Linked DNA regions of Homo sapiens: region 1 is linked to region 2. Evidence: fine-mapped expression QTL. Tissue or cell type: whole blood. Region 2 holds a variant in brackets; the other region holds the start of a gene. All regions are shown on one strand. Distances are from middle to middle.

What was found. PIP is the estimated chance that this variant, and not a neighbour inherited with it, causes the effect.
Region 1: CALML4 starts here. The variant in region 2 is fine-mapped to the expression of CALML4 in whole blood (TOPMed, PIP 0.98).

Annotation. Positions count from the first base shown.
Region 1 is chr15:68,202,335-68,207,334 of GRCh38, forward strand. CALML4 (calmodulin like 4) reads right to left here and starts at 2,998. Exons shown (of 5, transcript NM_033429.3): 1 at 2,911-2,998; 2 at 2,787-2,817. The coding sequence starts at 2,913. CLN6 (CLN6 transmembrane ER protein) reads right to left here. Exons shown (of 7, transcript NM_017882.3): 7 at 4,658-5,000. RefSeq lists an enhancer at 3,697-3,991.
Region 2 is chr15:68,056,051-68,066,470 of GRCh38, forward strand. All of the region lies in intron 1 of PIAS1 (protein inhibitor of activated STAT 1), which reads left to right. Among named protein-coding and RNA genes, the nearest start is that of PIAS1, 6.9 kb to the left of the region's middle. The variant T/C (reference allele first, on the strand shown) is at 4,801.

The DNA of each region.
Region 1 (5,000 bases), 140 kb after region 2:
GTGGCTCACGCCTGTAATCCCAGCACTTTGGGAGGGTGAGACAGGAGTATCGCTTGGGCCCAGGAGTTCGAGACCAGCCTGGACAATATAGTAAGACCTCATGTCTACAAAATATTTACAAATGTTTTGTGTGTGGTGGTGCATGCCTGTAGTCCCAGCTACTCAGGAGACAGAGGTGGGAGAATCCCTTGAGTCTGGGTGGTGAAGGTTGAAATGAGCGGAGATCATGCCATTGCACAGAGCAAGACTCTGTCTCAAATAAATAAATTCCATCTAGCCACTTGATTACCACAAATGAGTTTTGCCAACTTTTTTTTTTTTTTTTTTTGAGAGAGTTTTGCTCTTGTTGCCCAGGCTAGAGTGCAATGGCACAATTTCAGCTCACTGCAGCCTCCACCTCCCAGGTTCAAGTGATTCTCCTGCCTCAGCCTCCCAAGAAGCTGGGATTATAGGCATGTGCCACCATGACCGGCTTTTTTTTTTTTTTTTTTTTTTTTGAGACAGAGTCTCGCTCTTGTTGCCCAGGCTGGAGTGTAGTGGCTCAATCTCGGTTCACTGCAACCTCCGCCTCCTGGGTTCAAGTGATTCTCCTGCCTCAGCCTCCTGAGTAGCTGGAATTACAGGTGCCTGCCAGCACACCAGGCTAATTTTTGTACTTTTAGTAGAGATAGGGTTTCACCATGTTGGCCAGGCTGGTCTCAAACTCCTGACCTCAGGTGATCTGCCTCCCTCGGTCTCTCAAAGTGCTGGGATTACAGGCATGAGCCAACTGCACCTGGCCAGTTTTGTATTTTTAGTAGAGATGGGGTTTCACCATGTTGGCCAGGCTGGTTTCAAACCCCTGACATCAGGTGATCCACATGCCTCGGCCTCCCAAAGTGCTGGGATTACAGACGTGAGCCACTGCACTCAGCCCAAGTTTTGCCAACTCTTATATCCATTGCCAACCTATAGTTTCGATTCAACCATGATTTGACAAATGAAGCTGCGCGCCAATGAGTGCGATTCTTTTTCCAATGAATGAATGGTCATTAAACCTGATGTGATCTACTGTTAAACTATTTCTCACCCTTTTACCAAACACATTCATTAAATTGAAACTTCTTTCAAATCTCCATCTCCACTGATCACAATAGGGCTGTCTTTTTAACTTTTTGTACAGATAGATGTAGGGATTGAAACACTGTTTGATCCTACATTATTTAATAATGGCTGGCTTTAACATCCTGCTTGCAAAATTCCTAAAACTATGGCTCTTGCTAGCTGTAGTGAGCCAGCCCCAGCCCACATGTGGGTGACACCTGGCTATGCCTGGCCCAGCGTCCAGCATGTAACTGACATTATTCCCCTCTGTCCGTGGCTCGCAGCAGCCTGGTAAGGTGGCATATCCTACTTCATAGGTGAGAAAACCGAGGCTCAAGGGTGATTAGGCTTCAGGTCTGCTGCCTCCAAAGCCCCTGTTCTTCCCACTTCGCTAGGCCACCCCATCCAGTCTTTCACACACTCATTAAACACTGGTGGCCACTTTCTTGGTGTCAGATACTGGGATACAAAGACAATTTACCTTCTTCCCTTCTGGGAGCTTTGGCTATCCCAGGAGGGAGGGTCAGTGAGCCTCAAAACCAGGCATGGGTGGGAGGATGCTGAGGCTGAAGGCTGGACTCCAGCCCTCAGTCCACCATTCATTATCACCGTTAGACCTGGACAAGAGGGCACTGCCCCGGGCCCTGTGTTTTAAAAGTCCCTGCTCCTGCCCTGGCCCTCCTCTTGGGATAAAGAGTTCCAGGGTTCTACGTGGAGGTGCCCACCTGGAGCTCACAATTCCTGCCCCTCTGGACCAAGCTCAGAATACCCAGAACTCTGGAACTCCTGCCCAGGTAACCCTAACCCCACTTGGCTGGGCTCTCAGGACCCTACCCTGGATCACAAGGGCCCAAGGTGCCTGTAATTTTATCTCCAGTGGTCAGCGAAGGACTCACTGAGAAGGCGATGTTTCAGCAAAGACCTGGAGGAATGGGATGCCTCGGGGGACTCTCAGGCCCATTGACGTCCACTGTTGGGACAGGTTTCAGGGTCACAACCTCAAGCAGCAGCTGGCTGTGCCTCCTGGGCCTCTCCTGCCAGGTGCAGGGGGGCTGCAGCCATGAGGCTCCCCTGGCTCAGGTCTGGGCCCCCAAGTTCTTTGTAACGCAACTCTTTGCTCTTGGCCTTCTGGAAATAGAACCCTGCACGGTGTGAAACTGAAGCCTGGTCGAGGGCTGGCAGAGTAGGGGACCCAGGGAATAAAGTGCTCACGCCCAAACCAGGCTTGATGCCAGGGCAAAGGGGGCTCAGTGGACCCTCCATTTTACAGATAGGGAGACTGAGGCGCAGAGAGTAGACGCATCCTGCCAGAGAGTGCAGACCTGGCCTCTGTTCTGTCTCAATTACAAAGCCCCTCCTCTTTCCCTGCTGCCAGCCATACCTTTAATGGTCTCTCTCTCCATCCCCAGTCCCCTCAGTCCCCAAATCCAACTGGTCAGGTTCTGGAGGGAAACCTAGTAAGTTCTGTCTTAGCGCCCTGGCTTGTAAGTCACACTGACAAGTATAAAGCCACATGTCTATTTTGGAGGCTTACCCCCAACCCCCACCCCGCCAACAGCAGCCTCCCCGCAGCTCTTGGCCCTGGGTGGGCCCAGCTCTCCCACAGCCACCTTCCTTCCCACCAAGAAAACATGAGCAGAGCAAATTGCCTAATGAGACCCATATTTTGCTGAGTTGCTAATCAAAGAACAAACCCAACCTACCATTAATTTGGTCTTGGGAAAGAAACTTGGCCTGCAGCAGAGAAAGGAAAACAGTCAGGGGAGGGCTCCACCTGAGGTTCACGCCCCCAGCCCTGGCCAGGCCGACACAGACCCTCACACTCACCATTCTGGGGCCTCGGCTGCTACCCGTGGGCTTGCTGCTCCCAGAACCGCGTTCAGTTCCCTTTCCTCCAGCCTCAAGTCTAAAGTCTGCCAAGCTGGGTGGAGGCCCGGGTAATAAATGCTCGGCTGCCATGGAGACTGGGCCCGACGCCACCAGGGTCAGATTCCAGCTTCCTGAGCACAGCTCATGACCCGCCACCTGGGCAGGTTGGATTTTTGAGGAAATGGGGCTGCAGAAGGCTCTCCCTGGGCTCAGAGTCTCTGCCTCCAGAAGCCGAAGCAAAGGGACAAATGCCAGTGTTTCTTCCCGGGAGCCCTGGACTCCAGGAAGGGGTCTTCTCTCTCTCTCCTGGGACTCGGCGGGGATGCCATCAGGCCCCTACTAGAGTTGGACACTTTACACCCCGGGTCGTATTGAAGGCTCCTCACACACCATCTTGTAGGAGGAAGGGAACCCTTCCAAGACGGCCTAACTCAGAGATGGGCACCGGGGCTCGCAGGCTTGGGGCTCGGTATTGCAGGGATACAAGCTTCGGTGCTCTCAGGCTGGGATTCAGTCCTCCCCGTCTGCTGACTTGCTGAGTGACTGGCGAATCATTCTACCTCAGTCTGTGCCTCAGTTTCCTCACCAGCTGAATTACAGGGCAGCTGGCAAAATCAAGTGGCCAGCGCACAGCCGGTTCCCATCCTGTGCCAGTTCAGTTCCCACCTTCTGAGGACTTTAAGGGTGGTGGAGGGGCCTGAGCCGGGTCTCCAGCCCCACCACAGGCTCCTCGGGGGCTTGGAGTGAGGCCTCTTAGTGCCGGTTACCCTGGCCAGGAAGGCTCCCCTTTTCTTCCTTCCCTTCCTCTCTCCACCCTCAGCCCCACCCCTTCCGCAGAAGCTGCTGACGCTCCCAAGTCTTCAGGAGTTCGTGCTGCTCCCCTCCCCCACATAGGAGGAAATGGGGGCAGGGTGTGAGGCCTCCCCAGCTTCTTCCCCTTGAGATCCCATTTCCCTGTTTGGGGCGTGAGGCTTTTGTCCACAGCTGAGTCTATGAGGCTCTACAAGTAGGTGTGGCTGCACAGGTGTGCCCTACACAAAGGCCCCCAGCCCAGGTGCGAGTGGTTGCTGGCCAGGGGCTGCACTGCCAATAGGAAGGGGGGCATTGTGCCACTTTGCACACAGGCGCATAGACGGGAGGCGCTGCCTGTGCCCCACTCTCCCCTCCCCGCTCCTTTCCTGACCGCCTCTGTGTGGAAAGTGTGCTTTTCTCCCAAATCACATCCCCAGAATCGCTTTACACCTGTTTCTAGACCCAGAGAATTTTAGCTGGGGACTCCGACTCCTCCCTGTCAGAGTTTGAGGCTCCCCCTCCCAAACCCCATGGCAGGGATAAGAGGAGGGAAGGCTGCCTCTGTGCAGAGGATGGAGAGAAGGACATCAAGGAAAGTCACTTGGGACTCTGGAAGCCTGAAGGCGGCCAGGCCAACATGCTCCCTCTGAATCCCCTTGCCTGTGGGAAGGGGCTCCAGAAGAGATGAGGTGCCTCCTTGGAGTTAGGCCAGTGTGTGCTGGGGTGCCCCGGCCAACTCCCTCCTTATGTGTGTAGGTGTCTCCGGGGGTGACGCACAGATGGAAAACACCAGCGTGGGGCAATGGCTGCGTGAGGGTTCACGATACAGCAACTCACCATGCTGTAGGGCGCACCGTGTGTGCTACACCTCAGCACGAAAGGGAGAAAAGACAAAAAACACCTCTAACACCACTTGGGGCTGTGACTGTATTTACTTCATTCTTGAATCCCGCGTCCCCGTGGCTGGGGGCTGACACATCCCTGGGCACCACTGTGACTTCCTGTGGGTCCCTTCCCTTCTGTCCCTGACTCTGTAGACCCCCCACAGGAAGGGTCCTAGGTAGGGGGAGGTTCCTCCTCCCTTGAAACCCTGGGCCACTCTGTCAAGGCAAAGCCTCTGGGCCCAGCACCTTGTAAAGGCTTTGATGAGAGGAGCTCTGGCTTTTGCTCAGGGCCTTTGGCACCCCACCCTCCAGCCCCCAGGAATGCAGGCGCTCAAAGCCTGTGGCTAGGCTGCCCGAAGCGCGTGCCGCAGT
Region 2 (10,420 bases):
TTGAATATTTGGAGATAATTAACCCTTGAAATAAAAAAAAGCACACAACTTTAAGACATGTTTTCTATAATTTTTCTCTTAGAGTCACTATGTTGCTGTGATCTTTGCCTTGTAATATTTATTTTGTTAGGAGTTCTTTTGAATGATAGCTAATCAGTTGTTATACATGGACCATAGAATAAAGCTGAAAAGCATGTGCAGACTATATTGTCACTCTTGATGCTGTCCAAAGAAACTAGTATGGAAAGCACATGCTGAGAGATTTCCTTCTTTGTTCTTTCTCATTTTAAGAAAGTGCCTTTGGGGATAGATCAGATCCCTGGTGTGAGTCTTGTTAGGTAAAGTTTCTCTTTACGAAAATGAACCAGTATCAGATAAACACCAAACACTTGAAGAAATGTTATTTTTCTAAAATTAATCTCGTTTTTTGTGCTCTCCCAAATCTACTAGAGTTTTTCCAGAGGAAGTTTTTTTTTTCTACTCTTATGTTCCTGTTGTATAATTTTTCAAATTATAATAACTGTTTTGACATGTTGGTATGTCATTGTGTGTGTCTGAGACTTTGAGGAGCTGTGTGATAAATTGCTTAGCTGGTGATAGCGGCGTTAAAAAAATTTGGTTAATACTTTATTGTGGTTAGATTTGCTGTTCTTTTTTTGAGGGGTGGAGGAGGTGATCTCAGGAACGCCTACCATAGTTATTTGAGAATGTGTTAAAAAAAAGAGAATGTGTATATATAATTTTCTGTGCAGTAAGGTTTGGCAGATACTCCTTTTGGAAATGATATTTTCTGAAGGCTTTTTGTTTGTGATTTTTTGGAGGTAAATATCATACATTCCTAATATGATAGGAAAAATCAGAGTAAGAAGAAAAAAATCTAGATTTTTTGAAATTTTAAATGGGAATAGAGTACTTCAACTGTGAAGCTTTACATAAAACTCAGTGACTTTTCATTATTTTAGGTTTCAGCCCCATACTTCATTTTGCTGTGGATTGTATTCATAATTATTTTCCTCATGGCTTTTTTAGTGAGTCCTTTTAAATCTATAAGAAATGTGCAAAGATCAGATGGGAAAAACAGATAGATCTTTATCCCCTGTAGGAATTGTGCAAGCTGCAACACTTCAAGATATTGCCAATAAAAATTAGATTGTGAGTCATACATATCAAAATGAATTCTCTATGCACATTTGTTTATGAAAGGTTTAATTTTTCATTAGGGGAGTACCCATAAATGTCATTTTTAAGAATGTGGAGGGTATTTTGTCATCTTTAGGAACTTAGAAGCAGGAGGGTGTGATGGCCAGATGATCTTGGTAGTTAATAAGCTGACAGCTTCATGAAACTCCTCTTAAAGTAATTTAAAAAAAAATATGTGTTTTTTTGGAGTAAAACTCAAACCAAGTTATAGTGCCATTTTAATTTACAGGAAGAAGAGTGGGAGAGAAGAAGTCCATCAGCATTTTAGTGGAGTAAATAATGAAATTAAATGGGAAGAGAAACCATAATTATAAAAGTTACTATGAGTGTGTCAGTGAATTCTATTGTTATTTTCTGCCTCTTTATTTTCAAGAAATAGCTACTTAATTTTGATCCTTACGCTGTAATTTGTCTGCTTTTATTTCAGATAGAGTCAAGTACATCTGATAGTTTATTCATGGATTTGATTTGAATCTCTATAACTTGCTTTTGTCAAGTGCCACATTTAGATGGCTTTTGTTTTATGTCATTATTTTTATCAACAGTATTTTAAAAACTCTACAGTATAGTTTATAAAATACTACGTATAGTTTCTAAGTATTTCATATGATTGTTTTGAAATACCTCCTTCTTTTCATCCACCGTTTTCTCCTGGGCGATCCCATTGTCTTTTTCTTCAAAGAGTTTCTTGTAATCCCTGTTGATTGCGGTAGTGCTTAGTGGCGAGTCCATAGCTGATTAACCTTGGGTGTCTCCTGGTGAACTCCATCAGCATGCTGCTCCAGGGTTCTTGCTGAGGCTTTTGAGTTTAGTGTAATTTGTACCCTTTTTTGCTGGTAACCAGGGATAAGAAAATAAAATGGCCAATGGTTGTAGCGGGAACTGGGAAAAAGTATCCAAGTCTCAGAAAAACTGGGTGTTTATGATGAGATGTAGCCTTTCAAAACAACAACCAAAAACGGATTCATTACTTCATAGAATTGATTGTGGTGTTTTCTGAAGTGTTTGACTCTGGCATGAAGCATCTTGCTTTTTTAATGTTTGAATAATAATATCTTACTTATATAGTACTTTGCAGTTCATAATATATTGCATTATCTCTTTTGATCTTTCCAACAGTTCTTTGAGGTAGGAAAGGCAAGTAATAACTAAATCCTTTTTATAGATAGAGAAAGTGAGCCCAGAAAGGGTACGTGACTATTGCAAGGTCATACAAATAAAAGTGGCAGGGACTTGAGCCTAGGTCTTGTGTAGTCCTCCTTAAAGGTCCTACAGCAGACCTGGAGTCCTCTAGGGTGCCCAGTTCACAGATTTCTACTTATGTTGTTGCTGATACTTTCCCTTTTGGAAAAGCTCTATGCTAGGGTATTTTTGGATATTCTAGGGCATTTTGCAAGCTTCCTTGCAAAAAGTTTGGAGTTTGTTAGTTGGAATCATACACATTAATTTTTGTAAGTATCATTTTGCTTGAGAAAATTTCAGAGAATCTGAGAAGTAAGCAGAAAAATAAACAGTACCTGTAATCCCAACACTCAGAGATATCATGGTTAACATCTGGGTATTTATCCACTTAAGACTTTCTCTCTGTGAGCATATGTATATGTATATTCATCATAAAAAGATACAACACTGTTTTTTATTTATAATCTGCTATTTTCATGTCTATCCAGGTTAGTAAATACAGGTCTATATGATCATTTGAAACCTTACATTGTGTTTTATTAAACTAGTCCCTGTCAGATTATTCTACTTTTTTTTTTTTTTTTTTTTTTGAGACGGAGTCTTCCTCTGTTGCCCAGGCAGTAGTGCAGTGGCGCGATCTCGGCGCACTGCAAGCTCCGCCTCCCGGGTTAACACCATTCTCCTGCCTCAGCCTTCGGTGTAGCTGGGACTACAGGTGCCCGCCACTACGCCCCGCTAATTTTTTTGTACGTTTTTAGTAGAGACGGCGTTTCACCGTGTTGGTCAGGATGGTCTCGATCTCCTGACCTTGTGATTTGCCCGTCTCGGCCTCCCAAAGTGCTGAGATTACAGGCGTGAGCCACCACCGCGCCAGGCCCAGATTATTCTCCTTTTTTTGCAGTGTGTTTGCAGACATGTACCAAAGTTTGCAGATGTTTTATTTTAACTAAATATATTGATATGACAGATCTTTTTTGTGCTTTAGAAAGCAATGCAGGACCGGATGCCATGGCTCACACCTGTAATACCAGCACCTTGGGAGGCTGAGGTGGGCGGATCACGAGGTCAGGAGTTGAAGACCAGCCTGACCAAGATAGTGAAACCCCGTCTCTACTAAAAATACAAAAAATTAGCTGGGCGTGGTGGTGGGCGCCTGTAATCTCAGCTACTCAGGAGGCTGAGGCAGGAGAATCGCTTGAACCTGGGAGGCAGAGGTTGCAGCGAGATTGCGCCACCGGACTCCAGCCTGGGCTACAGTGTGAGATTCCGTCTCAAACAAAAAAAAAAAAAAAAAAAAAGAAAGCAATACAAATGTTTATTTTATTTTTGTAGAGTCAGGGGTCTCACTGTGTTGCCCAGGCTGGTCTCAAATTCCTGGCCTCAAACAGTGCTGCCTCGGTTTCCCAAAGTGTTGGGATTACAGGTGTGAGACACTGTGCCTCTGTGCTCGGTTTTTACAGGTGTGAGGTACTGTGCCACTGCACCCACTCTACAAAATTAGCTAAAATGTTGTCAGTGAAATAAATTAGTCATTCTTGGTTTGTTCATTGTCATACCTTTATTGTTTATGTTTCTGTAATATGTGAGATAAGATTATTAAATGATGGCAGATACAGGTTTTACAAAATGTAAGCAAACATTACTTCAGCATCAGAATGTTTGATAAAGTATGAAATCGATTATGAAGTAGTATTTTATAATCTATTCATACTATTCTATGAATAGTAGAATTTCAAGTAGGCAAGTATGTTTGATTTTGGAAATTATATCACAGTGACCACATATTGCAAGTTTTTGTACCTTATTTAGATGCTTATCAGTTTTTTTTGTTTTGCTGGGATTACAGGTGTGAGCCACCACGCCCAGCTGATGCTTATCAGTTTTTAACTGGCATTTTAAAACTATATTGAACATTGCCAGACGTGGTAATCCCAGCACTTTGGGAGCCAAGGTGGACAGATCACGAGGTCAGGAGTTCGAGACCAGCCTGACCAACATGGTGAAACCCTATCTCTACTAAAAATACAAAAATTAGCCGGGCGTGGTGGTGCGCACCTGTAATCTCAGCTACTCAGGAGGCTGAGGCAGGAGAATTGCTTGAACCTGGGAGGCGGAGGTTACAGAGAGCTGAGACCGTGCCACTGTACTCCAGGCTGGGCGACAGAGTGAGACTCCGTCTCAAAAACAAACAAACAAAAAATCCCCCAAAAAACAAACACTATACTGAACATTAATATAGAGAAAATGGAAATAAGACTTTACCATATTTTTAATCTCAAAACAAAGTGTTGCCATTTAAATTGGGAGGTAACATAGTTTCAAGGATCCACAATCTCTGCCTCCGGGGTTCAGGCAATTCTCCTGCCTCAGCCTCCCGAGTAGCTGGGATTACAGGCATGCGCCACTGCGCCCAGCTAA[T/C]TTTTGTATTTTTAGTAGAGACAGGGTTTCACCATGTTGGCCAGGTTGGTCTCTATCTCTTGACCTCGTAATCTGCCCGCCTTGGCCTCCCAAAGTTCTGGGATTGTAGGCGTGAGCCACCGTGCCTGGCCCAGGATCTGGTTTTAGAAAGATAACATAGGCAATGAAAGCATTTTTATTTTTAGAAAAAACCTTTATGAGTTAAACCAATTAATAAATGCATATGTGAATTAAGAATGCTATTTGTGCAACATCTGAAAAGTAGTGCATGTAGAAGGAACTTGAAATTGATCGTACTCTAAATTTGATTCGTTCGACTTTGGTCTTCACCTAAATCTGTATTTATGTAACGTTTTATCATTAGGATTTCTTTGAAATAGGCAGTAGAGACAATTTTAAAGTACTTAGTTGTCTTTAACCATCAATTTCAGAAGTAGTATTAATTGCCACTGCACTTTTTGCTAGATGTTTATGACTATATTTCCCCTTCCATGTTAAAAATTGTGCAACTCCTGTTACTTTTGATTCCCTCTACTCTTGGTTTCAGTAGTGTCACATGAAAAGAAAATTCCCTAGAACCCTTCCTTCAGAGTTTTCTGGTAAGTCTTCATTCTTAGCTATGAACTTCTAAAATTCGTCAAAATGAAGAAACCACCTTTTTATTTTTCAGCTTTTCTTTAGATCAAGCAAACAAAACAAACATAAATCCTTTGAATATTAACTAATGATGGAGATATCAGTAACTCTCATAGGACTGTTGTAAACGTTCCTATTTTTGAAAACTTAATCTCTTTTTTACCTTTTTTGCTATTCACTGCTTTCAGTTTACCCGCTTTGGTTGCCGGGTTAATTTCACCAAAACACTCCTTTCATTCTGTCACTCCTATCTATAAAAACTTTGAATGGCTTTCTATCGAAAACTGGATAAAGACTTAGTTCTCAGTCTAGTATTCAAGATTTTCTATTGTCTGGCCCCATTCCACTTTGTGTGTGTGTTTTGTCTCTTCAGCTGTATAGCAAAAGCCCTTAACTTAAAGCCAGAGCTGTTAGTTTGCGTCTTTTTGTTGGCTGGTGTTCTGTTTGTACACCCCCCATTCTCCCATCCCTACCCTGTGGACACAATAGGTGTTTTTAATATACATGTGTCAGATGAACAAATTATGTTTAAGATTTGTTTCTGTCAGAGACTGGGGCCTGATACTCTTGTCTATAAGACAATCTAAATTGAAAATATTTTTAGGGTCATATCTTCGCTCTTTTTTCTTGCTGCTGCTTAGATGAACTTGAATAACATTAAATCCAGAATAATTTATCAAGGGCTGTTTTAGATTTACCTTTTACATTATTTTAAGTTATAGAGATAATAAGTGACTACACTTCTCATTGTAATGATCTAACAGTAAATAGGGTAAAAATGGAAAGACCTCATCATCTTCATTCTTAGAGGGAATCATTTTGGTGTATATCTGTGTATTCTTATTTGGGTGGGCAGGGGGAGGTGACAGCTTTATTGAGATAAAATTAACATATCCCATTACAGTTCACCTCGTTAAAGTGCACAGTCAGGTAGTTTTTGGTATATTCACAAAGTTGTGTAACCATTAACCACAATCAGTTCTAGAATATTTTTTCACCTCGAAAAGCAACCCTACATCCTTTTAGCATCATCCCCTTCCCAAACCTTACCTCACTCTTAGCCCTAGGCGACTGATAATCTATTTTGAGTCTCTGTAGACTTGCCTATTTTGGGCATTTAATATAAATGGAATAAAAATATGTCACTTTTTGTGTCTGGTCTTGTATTCATTTTTTTCTCTGCATGGGCATTTAAATGTGTATGTCTGTATAATATTTTTAATTTATTGTGTGTGTGTATGTCTAGATGAGAACAAAACTAGGCACATAGAAGGAACTTAAGTGAATGTACATGTACATAAATATCTTTTCTAAAACTGTGAGACCATACCATATGTAGCATCCTACAGTTTGCTTTTTTTTACAATAGATAGTGAAGATCTTTCCATGACATGTCCAGACAATGAGATGGTCTCATTCTTTTTAACAGTGTGTAATATTTCCTATGTATGTTTATAGAGATTTACCTCTTGAATTTATCAGTGTATATGGTTAAAAGTTCTTAACAACTTGTTTTGATGGTTTTGCTATACACTACTGGTTTTTTTAAAAAAATAATTGCCACATTTAATGTAACCTCTGTAGTATTAATGCTGGAGTTTCACTTAACAATAGGAATGAAAACATCACAGGTAAGGGTTGTATAGCTTGAGGAGAAATGGAATGCAGGGTCTTTATGCAGTTCTGGCAGTGCTCAGCCAAAGCAATTCATTTTGTATTTGGGTTTCTGAATGTGAGCAAGCCTGTTTTTAAAAAAGCTCATGGCATAGTGCTTAAAATAGAACTTAACATGCTATCTTGTGCTTTATGGTGAATTTTAAGACTTTTTCTTGCAGTCATGCAAGTCTAATCTTAAAGATTGGAAAGATTTCAGAGTAAATATTTTTTCTCATATGTTAAAATCATCATTCTGGTCTATGGGCTTCTGTAAGTTACCCAAGAAGGGGACTGAAGAGGCACAGAACTGGCTCAGAAACTGGCTTATAGTAGATTCTCAGTAATTGTTATTTATTAAAGAATTATTTATCACATTCTGTTATTTATTATATTTTTGGGTATCTGCTGTGTATGAGGTACCAGGTTATTGGTGATTTTAATATATTATCACATATGTGTGTATATTTATTTAAATATTTCTGTTATAGCGGAATGTTTACTAAAAATTATCTTTTTAAAAATTATACAAGTAATGCATCAGTTCTTACAGAGGTTTTCAAAGTCTATTTCTCAGGCCTCTGGTGGTTCCCCGAAGTTTTTCTGAGGGTTCTCCAGGTCAAAATGATTTTCCTAATAATAGGCATTATTTACGTGCTGACATTTGCAAAATCAGTGGTGGGTAAAACTGCCAGCACCTTGGCACAAATTAAGGCATTGGTACTAAATTGTACTAGTAGTTGTGTTCTTCATCACTGTGCACTTGGAATTAAAAAAAAAAATGCCAGTTAAACTTTATGTCCTTGATGAAGCAATAAAACTTACTAATTTTATTGTATCTCAATCCTTGAGTACATTTAAAAATATATTTTGTATGATGAAATGAAAAGTACCTGTAAAACACTTTTATTGAATATCAAATCTGATGGTTAACTCAAGGAAAAGAACTTGTGCAGTTGAGTTGTGAGCTTTTTAAATGGAATACCATTTTTACTTGAAAAAATGGCTGGCAAAGTATGGTTATACAGACTAGGGTATTTGGCATACATTTTCATGAAAATAAACAAAGTGTGCCTGTCACTACAGGGAAAACAACTGACAATATTTGTTACTAATGATAAAATTTAAGCTTTCAAATGAAAATAGAACTTTGGAAGACATGTATTTGCCACTGTGAGCTTGACAGTTTCCCAATACTTGACTTTTTTGATAAGATCAGTGTGATATTAATGAATGTGTTATGTTGAAGTTGCATAGTGAAATATGTCAACATTTGGAAGAACTGCATAACTCAGTGAACTAATATTTTCCAAATAACCAATGCATGATATTACAAAATCATGCCTGGATAAAAAGATCCATTGGAAATGGAAGATAGACCAATGAATTTCAGTTTATCAGAGTGGGAAATATTCATTGATACGGTTTCAGATTCCTGCGTTGCAGCAGCCTTTAAGAACCTGCCATTTGTTGTGTTTTGGTGAAGGATCAAAGAATATCGAAAGTTATCTGAAAAGGCTAGAGCATTTTAATAAAAATACTCTATTTTTTCCCAACTCTATAGAGCTTCATAAGGCTAGATTTCCTTTATATTCTTCATCCAAAACAATCTAATACACAGATTGAATGGAAAAGTAGATGTGAGAATCAAGATGTCTTTATTAAGCTAGATGTTAAAGAGATTTGCAAAAATGTAAAACCATGATAGTCTTCTAATTTTTATTAAAAATATTTTTTAAATATGAGATTTATGTTAACAAGTAATGGATTAATTAATTAATTTGTTTTTTGAGATGGGCTTTGCCATGTCGCCCAGGCTGGTCTCGAAGTCGGGGGCTCCAGTGATCGCCTGCCTCGGCCTCCCAAAGTGTTAGGATTACGGCGTGAGACACCATGCCCAGCTATTATTTTTTTTTAAATGACAAATCTTTTAAAGTTTTCTGCTTTAACTGCAAATACAGTAAATATTGATAGATTTAATCGACATAAAGTTTTTTTGCGGGGGGGATGGTCCTCCACTTTCAAGAGTCCCAAGAGCAAAAACTTTGAAAACTTGATCTTTTTTAAAATTTAAAATTTACAGTACAGCAGTGCCTAATTTAAAATGGGACGATCCCTTTCACCTTCCCACTCATGGTATTTTTTATAACTTAAAAGGAAAAATAAGGCTGGGGGCAGTGGCTCACACCTGTAATTCCAGTGCTTTGGGGGAGACCTAGGCAGGCAGAGTGCTTAAGCTCAGGGGTTCCAGACCAGCCTGGACAACATGGCAAAACCACATCTCTACCAAAAATACAAAAAATTAGCTGGGCATGTTGATGCGCACCTGTGGTTCCAGCTGCTTGGGAGGCTGAAGTGGTAGGATTTTTTGATCCTGGGAGACAGAGGTAGCAGTGAACTGAGATCCACTGCACTCCAACTGGGTGACAGAGTGAGACCCTGTCTCGAGAAAAAAAAAAAAAAAGAAAAAATTTATTTCTAGTGATCTCTTACAAGGCAGTTTGCTAAGCAGAGTTATTTAATTAAATCCTGCATCTCTGTAAGTAATGCTAAACGGTAGTAGCTTGCATTGCACTGAACGAATGTGCTTGAAGTACTTTTTTTTTTTTTTTTTTTTTGGAGACAGGGTCTCCCTCTCTTGCCCAGGCTGGAGTGCAGTGGTATGATCATGGCTCACTGCAGCTTCGAACTCCTGGGCTCAAATGATCCTTCCACCTCAGCCTCCTGAGTAGCTAGGACTTCAGGTGCTTGCCACCATGCTCAGCTGACTAAAAGCTTTTTTTTTTTTTTTTTTTTTTTTTTTTGGAGATAGGGTCTTGCTGTGTTGCCCAGGCTGCTCTCAGACTCATGTGATCCTCATGCCTCAGCCTCCTAAAAGTGTTGGAATTCAAGGTGTTGAGCCACTGCACCTGGCTTGAAGTACTTGTAATCAGTAATGGTGTGGGAAATATATAACTTAATTTTTTCAAGGTTATGTTTTTTCTTTTTTCTTTTTTTTGAGACAGAGTCTCGCTCTGTTGCCCAGGTTGGAGTGCAGTGACATGATCTCGGCTCACCACAACCTCCGCCTCCTGGATTCAAGCAATTCTTCTGCTTCAGCCTCCCGAGTAGGATGCGCACCACTGTGCCCAGCTAATATTTGTGTTTTTAGTAGAGATGGGCTTTCACCATGTTGGCCAGGCTGGTCTTGAACTGCTGACCTCAGATCATCCACCTGCCTCAGCCTCCCAAAGTGCTGGGATTACAGGTGTGAGCCACCATGCCTGGCCTGATTGCTTTTTCTGTAGTAAAATATAAGAATCATATGAATAAATGAAAAATTCCCTAACTT